3 linked regions of the Homo sapiens genome follow. The protein of the gene in region 1 purifies or fractionates together with the protein of each later gene. This does not show direct contact. Each region holds a gene or a part of one and is shown in the gene's direction. Other genes may lie near its edges. The genes, in order: MOV10L1, AASDHPPT and AGXT2.

Region 1 (3,654 bases):
TGGAGTGCAGTGACGCAATCTCAGCTCACTGCAAGCTCCGCCTCCTGGGTTCACGCCATTCTCCTGCCTCAGCCTCCTGAGTAGCTGGGACTACAGGCACCCACCACCACACCCAGTTAATTTTTTTGTATTTTTAGTAGAGACGGGGTTTCACCGTGTTAGCCAGGATGGTCTGGAGCTCCTGACCTCGTGATCTGCCCACCTCAGCCTCCCAAAGTGCTAGGATTACAGGTGTGAGCCACCGCGCCCGGCCTCATGTTTTTTCTATGAATTATTTTTGGGTCCTTTGTCCACATTTTTGTTGAGTTCAGCTTTTTCTTTTGTTAAAGCTTATATATTAGGGAAATCAGAGCTTTTTAAGGAAAATTATTATATGAAAGTGTTAGGAATATTTTCCCCAGGATCATCTTTGACTGTGTTTTATAGTTTCATTTTTTGTAGTTAAGTGTGCCTCTTTTCCATGTAGCTTTTGGATGCTGTAAGAAGCCTTAGGGAGGCTTATTCCACTTCTTATTCCTAATATTCAAATTTTACTCTGAAAATTGTTTATTGACAATTAGAATTTTTTTTTCAATTTTTGAGACAGAGCTTTGCGCTGTCGCCCAGGCTGGAGTATAGTAGTGCGATTATAGTTCACTGCAGCCTGGAACTCCTGAGCTCAAGCGATTCTTCCACCTCAGCCTCCTGAGTAACTGGGACCACAGGTGTACACCATCATACCTGACTAATTTTTAAAATTTTTTTGTAGAAATGGCGTCTCACTGTGTTGCGTAGGCTGATCTGAAACTCCTGGCCTCGAGTGGTCCTTCCACCTCGGCCTCCCAAAGTGTTGGGATTACAGGCATGAGCCACCATGCCTGGCCTGTTTGTTGATATTTAAATATTTGACCTGCCTGGAATTTATTTGGGTGCACAGACTGAGAGAAGGAACCAGACATTGCTTTCCTAATGGCTAGCCAGTCATCTGAGTAGCTCACTTTTTCCCTGCTGATTTGGAAAATTCCTTAATCATGTATCAGAATCCCACCTGCATGTGATGTGGTCCTGATGCTTGTAAGGGGGCCCCATGGCATGGTTGCTGTGATAGGTGGTGAGCAGGTTTCCCTTCTTTGCTCTTATTAGCATATGGTATTTTTCTGGCTCTTCACATGTTCTGGATGAGTTTGGAATCTTGTTTCTCCCCCTCTGCCCAGATTTGCTTTGGATGGCACTGAGTTTATGCATTTCATTTAGAATAATTGATATTTGGGTCATATGGAGTCTTTTCCATATGTCTGTCCATTTATTTAAGCCTTCCTTTGTATTCTTTTTATAGTTCAATAGTTTTCTTCTTTTAGGTCCTGTAAATTTCTTACTAAATTTATTTTCAGGAGTTTTTATGTGTTCTATTAACATCATTTTCCATCGTATTTTCAAATTAATCTTTTTCTTCCTGTATGGGAAAGCTTTCAATTTTTTTTTTTTTTTTTTGAGACGGAGTCTCGCTCTGTCACCCAGGCTGGAGTGCAGTGGCATGATCTTGGCTCACTGCAAGCTCCATCTTCTGGGTTCACACCATTCTCCTGCCTCAGCCTCCAGAGTAGCTGGGACTACAGGCGCCTGCCACCACGCCCAGCTAATTTTTTGTATTTTTAGTAGAGATGGGGTTTCACTGTGTTAGCCAGGATGGTCTCGATCTCCTGACCTCGTGATCCGCCACCTCGGCCTCCCAAAGTGCCGGGATTACAGGCATGAGCCACCATGCCCAGCGATTTTTAAATGTAATTTGGAATCTGGCAAACGTATTGAGCTATTAACTACTTTTTAAAAATACTTGAGATGTACTTTATTATACTATTATAGTTAGTACCATCTAATGCTTAGTATCATCTTTCTCAAATTAAAAAAAAAGCATACCCAATAAAATAATTCAAAGTCTAGAATTCCATCATTCAATATGGTAGCCACCACTCATGTGCAGCAGTTTCGATTTATTAAAACTAAATGCAACTTACAGCCAGGCGCGGTGGCATAAACCTGGAGTCCCAGCACTCGGGAGGCTGAGGCGGGAGTTCGAGACCAGCCTGGGCACATAGAGACCCTGTCTCTTAAAAATAAATAAATAAAAGTGTTTCCTCAGTTTCCCTGGCCACATTTCAAGTGCTAACTGAAGCCTAGTGACTACCAAATTGGGCAGCACACATAGAGAACATTTCTGTCAGCTCTGGCTTAGAGACTGTGAATGCAAAGTAGAAGAGCCTCCCTCCACGTTCCCCACCTGCACTTTCATGCTGCAGACCTGATGCTCTTCTGGGTTTCTGTTTCTACCTTATCTGGTAGATAGTTGAGTCACTTAAACAATATGCTTGTATCTTTTATTAATTCACCAATGTTAGTATTTATGGACTTCCATCATCAGAGATGTACAACTGGCTCATTCACACTACCCTCTTTTCCTCTCCCAATTATTTAATTATATTTTTTCCTCCAAAGATTTCCTTTTGAACTTGAAATTATACGATAGTCCTCATGTTTTTGTGTGTATTTAAAGGAGTACTCTGGGTTCAGAATCTTTGAAAGAGGATCTGGAACCCAGAACCTGTAGAGATGATGTTTACCTCATTCTCTGAGCTGTGGTCGTGTACTCACACGCGGCCTTCCAAAGCAGGTTCTCATACCAAATTCCCGTTGATTTTAAGATACACCATTAATTTGATAATGAAAATTTAAAATGGAAACGTAGGTTGTGAGACTCATTCTGATCTCAGAAATGTGACAATGTGGAAAAACTGGCCCCTGGGTGTCCAGCAAATCCCAGCCCTCTTGGTGGTCAGCTGCCCTTCACTTGTTCCATCTTGTAAGGAATGCAGGACCTTTTTTGTTATGGTGAAGAGGGTTCATCTCTACTCACAATCTTGCTTTTATAAATTAGTAATGGATTTTTCAAGTACTTTTCAGTATCTTCCAAATGATCCCATAGTTTCTGTCCCTTTGCTATTAATATGGTGGAAAATACAGTTTCTGTGTTGTGAGCCGTTCTCACTTGATGGGAATGATCCCCATTTGGTATAAACCTGAATGTACTTCTGGATTTATTTTTTATTTAGATATTTTTCTTGTGGTAAAATATGCGTAATATACCATTTTAACCATATTGAAATGTACGGTTCAGTGGCATTAAGCACGTTCACATTGTTGCGCAGCCATCACCACAATCTGTCTTCAGCACTTTTTCAGCATCCCAGTAGACACTCTGTACCCATTAAACAGTTATTCAGTGTTCTACTTTATGTCTCTATGAATTTGCCCATTCTAAATACCTCATATAAGCGGAATCATGTGTCTGGCTATTTGACTTCTGTTTTCAAGATTTGCCCATGTAGCATGTATCAAAAGTTAATTCCTTTTTTATGGCTGAATATTCCATTGTGTGAATAAATCACATTTTGTTTCTCCATTCATCTGTTGATGGACACTTGGGTTGTTTCTACTTTTTGGTTGTTGTGAATTGTGCTGCCATGAACAAGTCTGTCTGAGTCCTTGTTCAGTTCTTTTGGGGCTACGCCTAGGAAGAGAATTGCTGGGCTGTATGGTAAGTCTAGGTTTAACTTTGTGAGGAACCAGATGTTTTCCACAGCAGCTGCACCGTTATATGTTCCCACCAACAGTGCATGA
Region 2 (3,654 bases), on another chromosome or scaffold:
TTTGTGTATACATATTGGTGACCTTGTTTTGGAGAGGGATTAATGTCGTAGGCCCTGAGGTTCTGGATTTTTTTCCGTAGGCCTGAAATAGTTGCTCAAGGCATTGGATCTAAATGATTTTGTTGTATGTTACTACTGTGTTTAAAATAAAACATTAGTTGCTGGGTGGTCTTGATTAGTTAATCATTCCAGAATACAATATCTAACACTGCTCTCCCTAATGATCAAGCTATAAGATGGAAGATCAGGTTTTTCTAAATTTGACTGATGATTCTCTGTGTATGTAATGGTATTATTAGAACTTGCCAACGTATGTGCAGTAATTGTGCTGTCTTCAAATAGTTTAAGGGACAAATTCACTGTTCTTCCTACCGATTTTTCTTTATTCCAGTTTCCTAGGTAAACTGCACTTAATACTTAACACAATATTTGCCCACTGTATATCCACCATAATGCCACAGTGTGGCGCTGCTGTGCTTTGGCCGAATATTTACGAAATCACCTTTTCCTATTGCTGTCAAATTTTTTATTTTGTGGACTAAATAAGATGCTCTAAAGTATATGAAAACGCACTCGTATCGGATATTTTTTGGCTGTACATAATGAGTTATGTGATTGCTTTCTAGTGATTGTGCCAGATTGATTGCCTTTTATGTTAATCAGTTTTTTAATAGCATGCTTATTTAAATTTTTTTCCTTGATTGCCCCATCTTATTTAGTTAAAAATCAGAAGGCTTCTTGGAGGTTATAAAAATAAAATTTGAAGAAAGCAGCAAGCAGAATGACACTATAGATGACAAAATGCGTATCTTTTTAAATGCAGATTTTTTGGACATTAATCTGTTAAAACTACAGTTTCACTCAAAATATATAATGCAGGCTTCCAAACCAAAAATAGTTTATTCCTCCCATTATTGTTACATATGCTGTTTGTGCCAAAATCCATTCAACAAGAAACAGTTTTTGATTTTTGTAGATATAGTGTTCCCAATGTTTAAAATTTCCAGATTTACTTTTGTTACTTCAGAAGCTTTCTGTCTTTACTTTCTTTGAAGTGTTCTTTAAGATGTTACTTATCAAGCCAGTATGTACTATTGATGCATTGAACAAAAAAGTTTTTATTGAGGGGCTTCTATTAATGTTAGTCTCAGGAAGGTGTTGAGGAGTAAACACCAGACAACAAAGGGATCCATGGCCCCAAAAGGGGTAAGAATTTCTTGCCATTGAACTCTTAAGATCACAATTTAATATTTCGGTGCCTAAAAATGAATGAGGATTCTTATTTTGATCCATAGTACCACATATCAGCAACAGGATCGGCAGAAATACTTCCTGATGAACTAAGAGGAGACTATTTTGACTCTTGAAGCGGGAGTACTGGGAGAATCATAACTATTTCATGACAGAACCGATTTTTAATATACTCTACCCTTGAGATGATTGTGGGAAAGGTATTTGGTTACTGCAGGAGAAACTGTAAACTCTCTGTGAAGATAAGGACCATGTCTGTTTTGCTCATCATGCGGTTCGTGGTACCTAGCACTTGTATGCTTTTAGTGAGTGATCATAATGGAATTCTAATTGTTGAATTCTCATAGAGAGAATTAGTGATTAAATGCCAGTGAAGTATTAAGGGGATGTTCAACATCTTCAACATCTTTTTTCTCCACATATTTATTTACATAAGAAATGCCCATAGAGTGTGTGGTATCAGCTATCATAAGAATTGTGTTAATCATTTGAGAATGTCAAATTTTGGAGTTGGTTATTTTAGAAGTGGGAATTGGAGTAAGCCCATATTAACAGAATCCACAAAGGGATTACCTTCAAAAGGTTTTCTGGAAAATAATGTAATAATGAACTAAGGATACAGGGCAGAAGAATATTTAGGAAATAATTTACCATATAATAGTTAACATTCATGTATACACTTAGTAAATGTTTGTGGTTCACTTACCTTGGAACAGGCTCTCTGATAGGCCCATTAGGCTGTAAGTATAAAAGGCAAGAACAGTGATCAATTTACTTTTAATATTAGTTGAATATGTATTTGTGTAAATATTTATACATATTATGCATATTTATATAAAATGAATGATGGTAGAAAGTTTGTGCTTGGTGGTAAAGACACACAAACACATAATTTTAATGTTTTGGAAAATTCAGTACCAGAGGCCTACCATGAATTTTAACATGTATCTTACCCCTTGGTTCTGGGAATCAGATCCTTTGAGTTGTATCTTTTGTCATTTATTTTTAGAATGCTATGTAATATTTTGTTATCTATGAAATAGTGGCACTAAAGATATATTTCAAGTTTTTAAAAATGAGCTTATTTTGCAACTGCAACCACGAAAGAGTAATGAAAATCTTTTTATTTGAATAAGTCATATTAGAAAACAAGTTGGAAAACATTTTGAAGAAGGTATTAATTTTTTAGCCGTGGCAATAATGTAGAATAAAAGAACAGTTTTCAGCTTTCTGCTAATTTTCCAAAAATTGTAATAAAAGAATTATTCCCTTTTTTTCTCTGTTACATAACAAAATAAAACTTTAGAATAATATGGCTCTACTTTAGGAGTATTTTAATTGGGCTTCTGATAAGTATCCTTTTATATAAGAAATTTCCTGTTATTTAAAATTTATAACAGCTTTGGCTGCTAAATTTTATCAAAACTTTTTGGGACATATATTGATACAACCATATGGTTTTCCTGCTTACTTAATAATTTACAGAATATCACCAATTCCTGTTAAACTACTCTTATATTTCTGGGCTAACCACTGCTTGTCATAGTGTGTTTACTCTTTTAATTTTCAACTTGCTTTGACTTGCCGAGATTTTGTTTAGGATTATTTTAAATGTATTCAAAAGTATGGTTGCCCTTTAGATCTTTGGGGGGTGCTGTCTTGAACAGTTTTAGTAATAGAGCAACTTTTTATTTTTTAATAGAACTGCTATTTAATTTTTTATTTCTTAATTGGCAGGTCGTGGTTCAATTCCAGAATTCTTTCATATTATGAAAAGAAAGTTTACCAACAAAGAATGGGAAACAATCAGAAGCTTTAAGGATGAGTGGACTCAGCTGGATATGTTTTATAGGAATTGGGTATAATTCTTTCTAATTTTGAAAGCAAAAGTCTATAATGATTCCATTATCTTCACTTAAAATCAGAGTCCTTGGTTACCCAGTAGTGTCCAAACAGTGCTTGAAGTAAATGGGTGATTGCTTGAGAATTTTATGGTTTTTATGCATATGGTATTACATTATAATGACATTTCATTTTAAGAAAATTTAACCTATATGTAATGCTCAGTTAGAAAGTACTTACTTAAAGCTAAAACAAATCATTACCATTGATAAATAATATTTTCTGTCATAAAGGAACTAATACACATGAGGTCCTATATAACAAACACTGATAATATATACTACATGCCAGAAGACATTACTTCAAGCTCTAAGTTAGTTAATTTAATGTACATAACATCCCTATGAGGAAGGTATTGTTATCATCATCGCAGGTTACATACGAGGGGATACAGGCACGGAGAGCTTAAATGATTTGCCCTAAGATCATATGGATGGTTTGTTTTCATGCTGTAAGGGTTTTTTTTTAAAAAGGTTATAGCTATATAGCCATAATGTAGTA
Region 3 (4,264 bases), on another chromosome or scaffold:
GAACTCAACATTTTCTCCCCTCTGTCCAACCACAGGACAGACTGTGCACCCCAGGGAGATGCTGTGTGTCCACTGGCCTCACTGACTTGGATTACTCCTGCAGCACGTGACCAGCCAGCTCATATGATCACTCCCTACTGCCCCCAAAGCAGAATTGACTGGGAGCTGGAAACCCACACAAAAAGGGACAATTATATTGAATGTAACATACTCCCTCTGCTTACCTAGTGCCTTCACCTCCTATGGGCATTTGGAGTAAAAGGTTGTTATGCAGGTGTTTGTGAAGGATGTGGCCAAGTCAGTTGTCTCCCTTACAGGGTGACCCAAGATTAATGATATCTACCCATCCCCAGTCCCTCGACCCCCTAGTTGCAATCAGCTTTGTCACTGTCCCCCTTAGGCACTGCCATGTAAAGCACGTGGTCCCCCATTCTGAAGCAGTGGGAAACCTAGAAGAGATGTACTCTTCGCAACCTGGTTGGATCTTAAAAACATGGTTCTAACTGAAAAGAAAAAAGACATATTACACATATTTACATAAATTAAAACTGCATTCACCCTAAACAATACACATTTTACAAGAATGCGTTCCAACAAAAGGATATATATAAGCATGCTAAATACTTGCTTATGGGGATTGAAGGTAAGGGGAGGCTGGAGTGGGATAAATAGGAATTTAAGAAATAATGAAAATAAGGCACACTAACTCCTTAGCTCTCAACCTTTTGCCTTCCTCAGACACATAAGATGATCCACAGCTGTCCAGAACCTTACCTAGCTATTTGGTACTCTCAGCTTTTCTTTGGAATGGCTCCTTCCCCATTGTTTTCTCCTCTCTTTCTCTAAGACCCCCAAAACCAATTTATTTGTTCATTCACTTCATGCATATCTTCCTTTTTCCTCTCTTAGTCACATACCTCGTTTCACAATCTCCGACCCCTTCAACCATGTCCTGATCCTTCTCCCACACCCAGCACCACCCTCCTGCAGAGAAAAGTGTACCCGGATGAAACTCCGATGGAATATTAAACTAACAGAACTTGTCAGATGACCTTTGCTTTATCTGCCTGCTTTCTTTCCTCTTCCCTTCTGTTCTCTTCTTTTCCTTTCTTTTCTCTCCTCTTCTCTCTCTCCTTCCTATTTTCATTCTATCTCTTTTCCTCACTCTCTTTTTCTCCCCCTTGAAGGCACTGTTACTAGAAATAGAGAGCTCTGGGGCTTGCCTGAAGCCATGGGCAGTCACCACTCCAGGATTCCCCTTTTAGCGCCTCCTCCCCATCTTAATCTCAAAGTCCAGCAGGATAGTGAGCAGTTAGAGCCCGGCCTCCAATCTGCTTCCATGGGGGTTGGCTTTCTGAGTGGGAGAAATGACTCTAATCTGGAGACATTTGCTGAGACCCTTGTGCCTGGTCACTTCCGCTCCCAGGATCCTTGAGATGCATCCTTTCCTGAGCCGTAAGTGGAAACCAGGGGGACGTGGGTCAGTAGAGGATCAGCGAGAGGGTAAGACTTGAGCTCCGAAGGCTGCTGCCTGGGATTCTGGAATGTTAGACCTGGGTGAGGTCTTAGAGATGAGGCATGTTTTTGACACACAGGTTCTCACCCTGAGTCAATGCCCCATTTTCATAGCCAATATTTTGTAATGCTCCTTTTTGTTTTGAAATGAAATTCGTGGATAATGAAACCCGACTATACACAATTTCAACATGACATGCTATCTCAGCTTCAATATTTTTAAAAACCAAAGGAAAGCAATCAAAATAGAGTGTGACTTCAATTTACAGATGCCCAAGGATGATTTCTATTTTTTCTTTTTTGAGACAGGGTCTCCCTCTGTCACCTAGGTTGGAGTACAGTGGTGTGATCATGGTTCACTGCAGCCTTGACCTCCAAGGCTCAAATAATTCTCCCACCTCAGCCTCCTGAGTAGCTGGAACTATAGGCACATGCCACCATGCCTAGCTATTTTTCTTTTTTAACTTTTGTAGACATGGGGTTTTACTATGTTGCTCAAGTTGGTCTCGAACTCCCGGGCTCAAGCAATCCTCTCACTTCAGTCTTTCAAAGTGCTCGGATTGCAGGCCTAAGCCATTGCACCAGGCTAGGATGACTATTTTAAAAGATGTAAAGCATCTGCATGAATTTTCATCATGCCTCTAGGAAGTGAGACCACGCTCTCAATTGCCAACAAGTGCTGTGATTCACCCAGAGTCATCCAAGCCAGGGCTTGACCCCAGGCCCTCCCCATCTACTCAGACTCTCCTCTCTGCAGCAAGAACAGAAAATATGAGGAGATGTGGGGTAACCAGACATTGGTGGCTTTATGAGTAATATCCTATATGCTTGTGATTTTCACATGGATCTTGTTTCACGAGAGCCTCACCTCCTCCTCAGCAAATTCCCTCATGCAAACATGAGATTAAGCAACTGTCTGTACATTTATGTGCCTGTGCTTCACGGGCCGTAAACAGGTACAGGGGACCATTTTACATTCCCCATTGTGACCAACTTTGCCTTCATTTTCTCCTCATATTTCCCTTTCACCCTCCTTCCTTCCTCTCCTCTTCGCTTTCTTACCCCTGAAAATTGCAGTTTTTTGAAACTTGACACATGCATGATGCTTTAAATGCATTATCTCCTTTTATCTTCAACCAAACTTGTTAGTGAGTACTATTATCTCATTCCACAAATGAGGAGACAAGAGAATAAGGAATATCTAAGAAATGTGGTCAAAGGCAGAAACATGTATGTGATAACTTGGGATTCAAAGCCAGGTCTATCTGACTCCGAACTCGAAGAGATTCTACCAGGCCCTGTCTATCCTCCCCTAGTCTTCCAATCCTGTTTGGACTGCTCTTTTCCCTTGGTCATGAGTTTCTTTTGCCAGAACATCACCTAACTCCAACATTTTCTCAGAAGCAGGTAAAATTATAACCAGTCTTATGCTCAGTGAGGAGGAAATTATGCTGAAAGTACCAGCTGTTGACCTAGCAAGAGAAATGCCCTAGACTGCCCCCTCCCCTTCCCTACCCCAACCTCTGAACATTGTGGAGTTGCACAGTGGAGCAGCAGGTAACCTAGAGAGGGCAGGTGAGGCCTAGTACCTAGAGATCTTGAGCAACTCGTTGGCGACGCCTTACCATAGGCCCAGCAAGGACACTACAGGGAAGCAGTCTTGGAAAACCACACCACTGGCCGGGTGCGGTGGCTCACACCTCTAATCCCAGCACTTTGTGAGGCTGAGGCGGGCGGATCACGAGGTCAGGAGATCGAGACCATCCTGGCTAACACGGGGAAACCCTGTCTGTACTAAAAGTACAAAAAATTAGTCGGGCATGGTGGCGAACGCCTGTAGTTCCAGCTACTCAGGAGGCTGAGGCAGGAGAATGGCTTGAACCCGGGAGTCGGAGCTTGCAGTGAGCGGAGATTGCGCCACTGCACTCCAGCCTGGGCGACAGAGTGAGACTCCTTCTCAAAAAAAAAAAAAAAAAAAAAGAAAAAAGAAAAAGAAAAAAACCACACTACCTAGACTGAATGCTATCCTCATCACCTGGCCTTGCAAAAACCTTTGGGACTTTTATGTCTACTTTCTTACCTACTCTACCTAGGTCTGTGCCTGTTTGTGCTTGCTCATCCAAACACACACTCACTAACATACATTTATTGAGCACCTGCCATGTGCAATATATACATTCAGGCAAAATATTTGAGCATCTATTATGCACCAGTGCTGCAGACTTAGCCACAATAAGCAAGAAAAAGCTCCTGCCCTCTATTCCAGGAAGGAGATAGACATAAATGAATAAGTAAATATGTAAAAATATATATGTGTGTGAATATGTATGTATTTATGTATGTATCCAATAGAGACACATGCCATGAATAAAACCAAATCTGGAAAGGGAATAGAAAAATATAATGGGGGTGAGGGGAGGGGCTGTGATAGGGAGGTCACCACGTTTTAAGTGTTGTTTTATATGCAAAAATAAATAAGTCACAATTCTTGTATAGTATCTACATAGTTACTGTACAATATTCATATGCATAAAATGTTCAGCTTTGTTTACACTTTGATATGCACAATCACTTTGGGCTAACTGTGTATACAAAGTTATGGAAGCAATTTGTTTTCAGTACAAAAGTGTGGAGAAATATCTCAGTGGGGCATTCTTTCCTACAATTAGCTAATGACTGAAATATATAACATTTGCAGGTGGCTGGGGTATGTGCTCCCATGTACCAATTTCCTAATATATGCCTGCTC

What was found.
Region 2: the proteins of MOV10L1 (region 1) and AASDHPPT fractionate together in Homo sapiens (co-fractionation; one large-scale study listed by BioGRID). This does not show direct contact.
Region 3: the proteins of MOV10L1 (region 1) and AGXT2 purify together in Homo sapiens (affinity purification with mass spectrometry; one large-scale study listed by BioGRID and IntAct). This does not show direct contact.

What each region holds. Positions count from the first base shown.
Region 1 is NC_000022.11:50,092,948-50,096,601, forward strand, and holds part of MOV10L1 (RNA helicase Mov10l1), read left to right. Parts: intron 1-3,654. UniProt on the Homo sapiens protein: ATP-dependent RNA helicase required during spermatogenesis to repress transposable elements and prevent their mobilization, which is essential for germline integrity.
Region 2 is NC_000011.10:106,087,569-106,091,222, forward strand, and holds part of AASDHPPT (L-aminoadipate-semialdehyde dehydrogenase-phosphopantetheinyl transferase), read left to right. Parts: intron 1-2,988; coding exon 2,989-3,110; intron 3,111-3,654. UniProt on the Homo sapiens protein: Catalyzes the post-translational modification of target proteins by phosphopantetheine.
Region 3 is NC_000005.10:35,044,996-35,049,259, reverse strand, and holds the start of AGXT2 (alanine--glyoxylate aminotransferase 2, mitochondrial isoform a precursor), read left to right. Parts: upstream 1-1,310; 5' UTR 1,311-1,367; coding exon 1,368-1,455; intron 1,456-4,264. UniProt on the Homo sapiens protein: Multifunctional aminotransferase with a broad substrate specificity. Catalyzes the conversion of glyoxylate to glycine using alanine as the amino donor.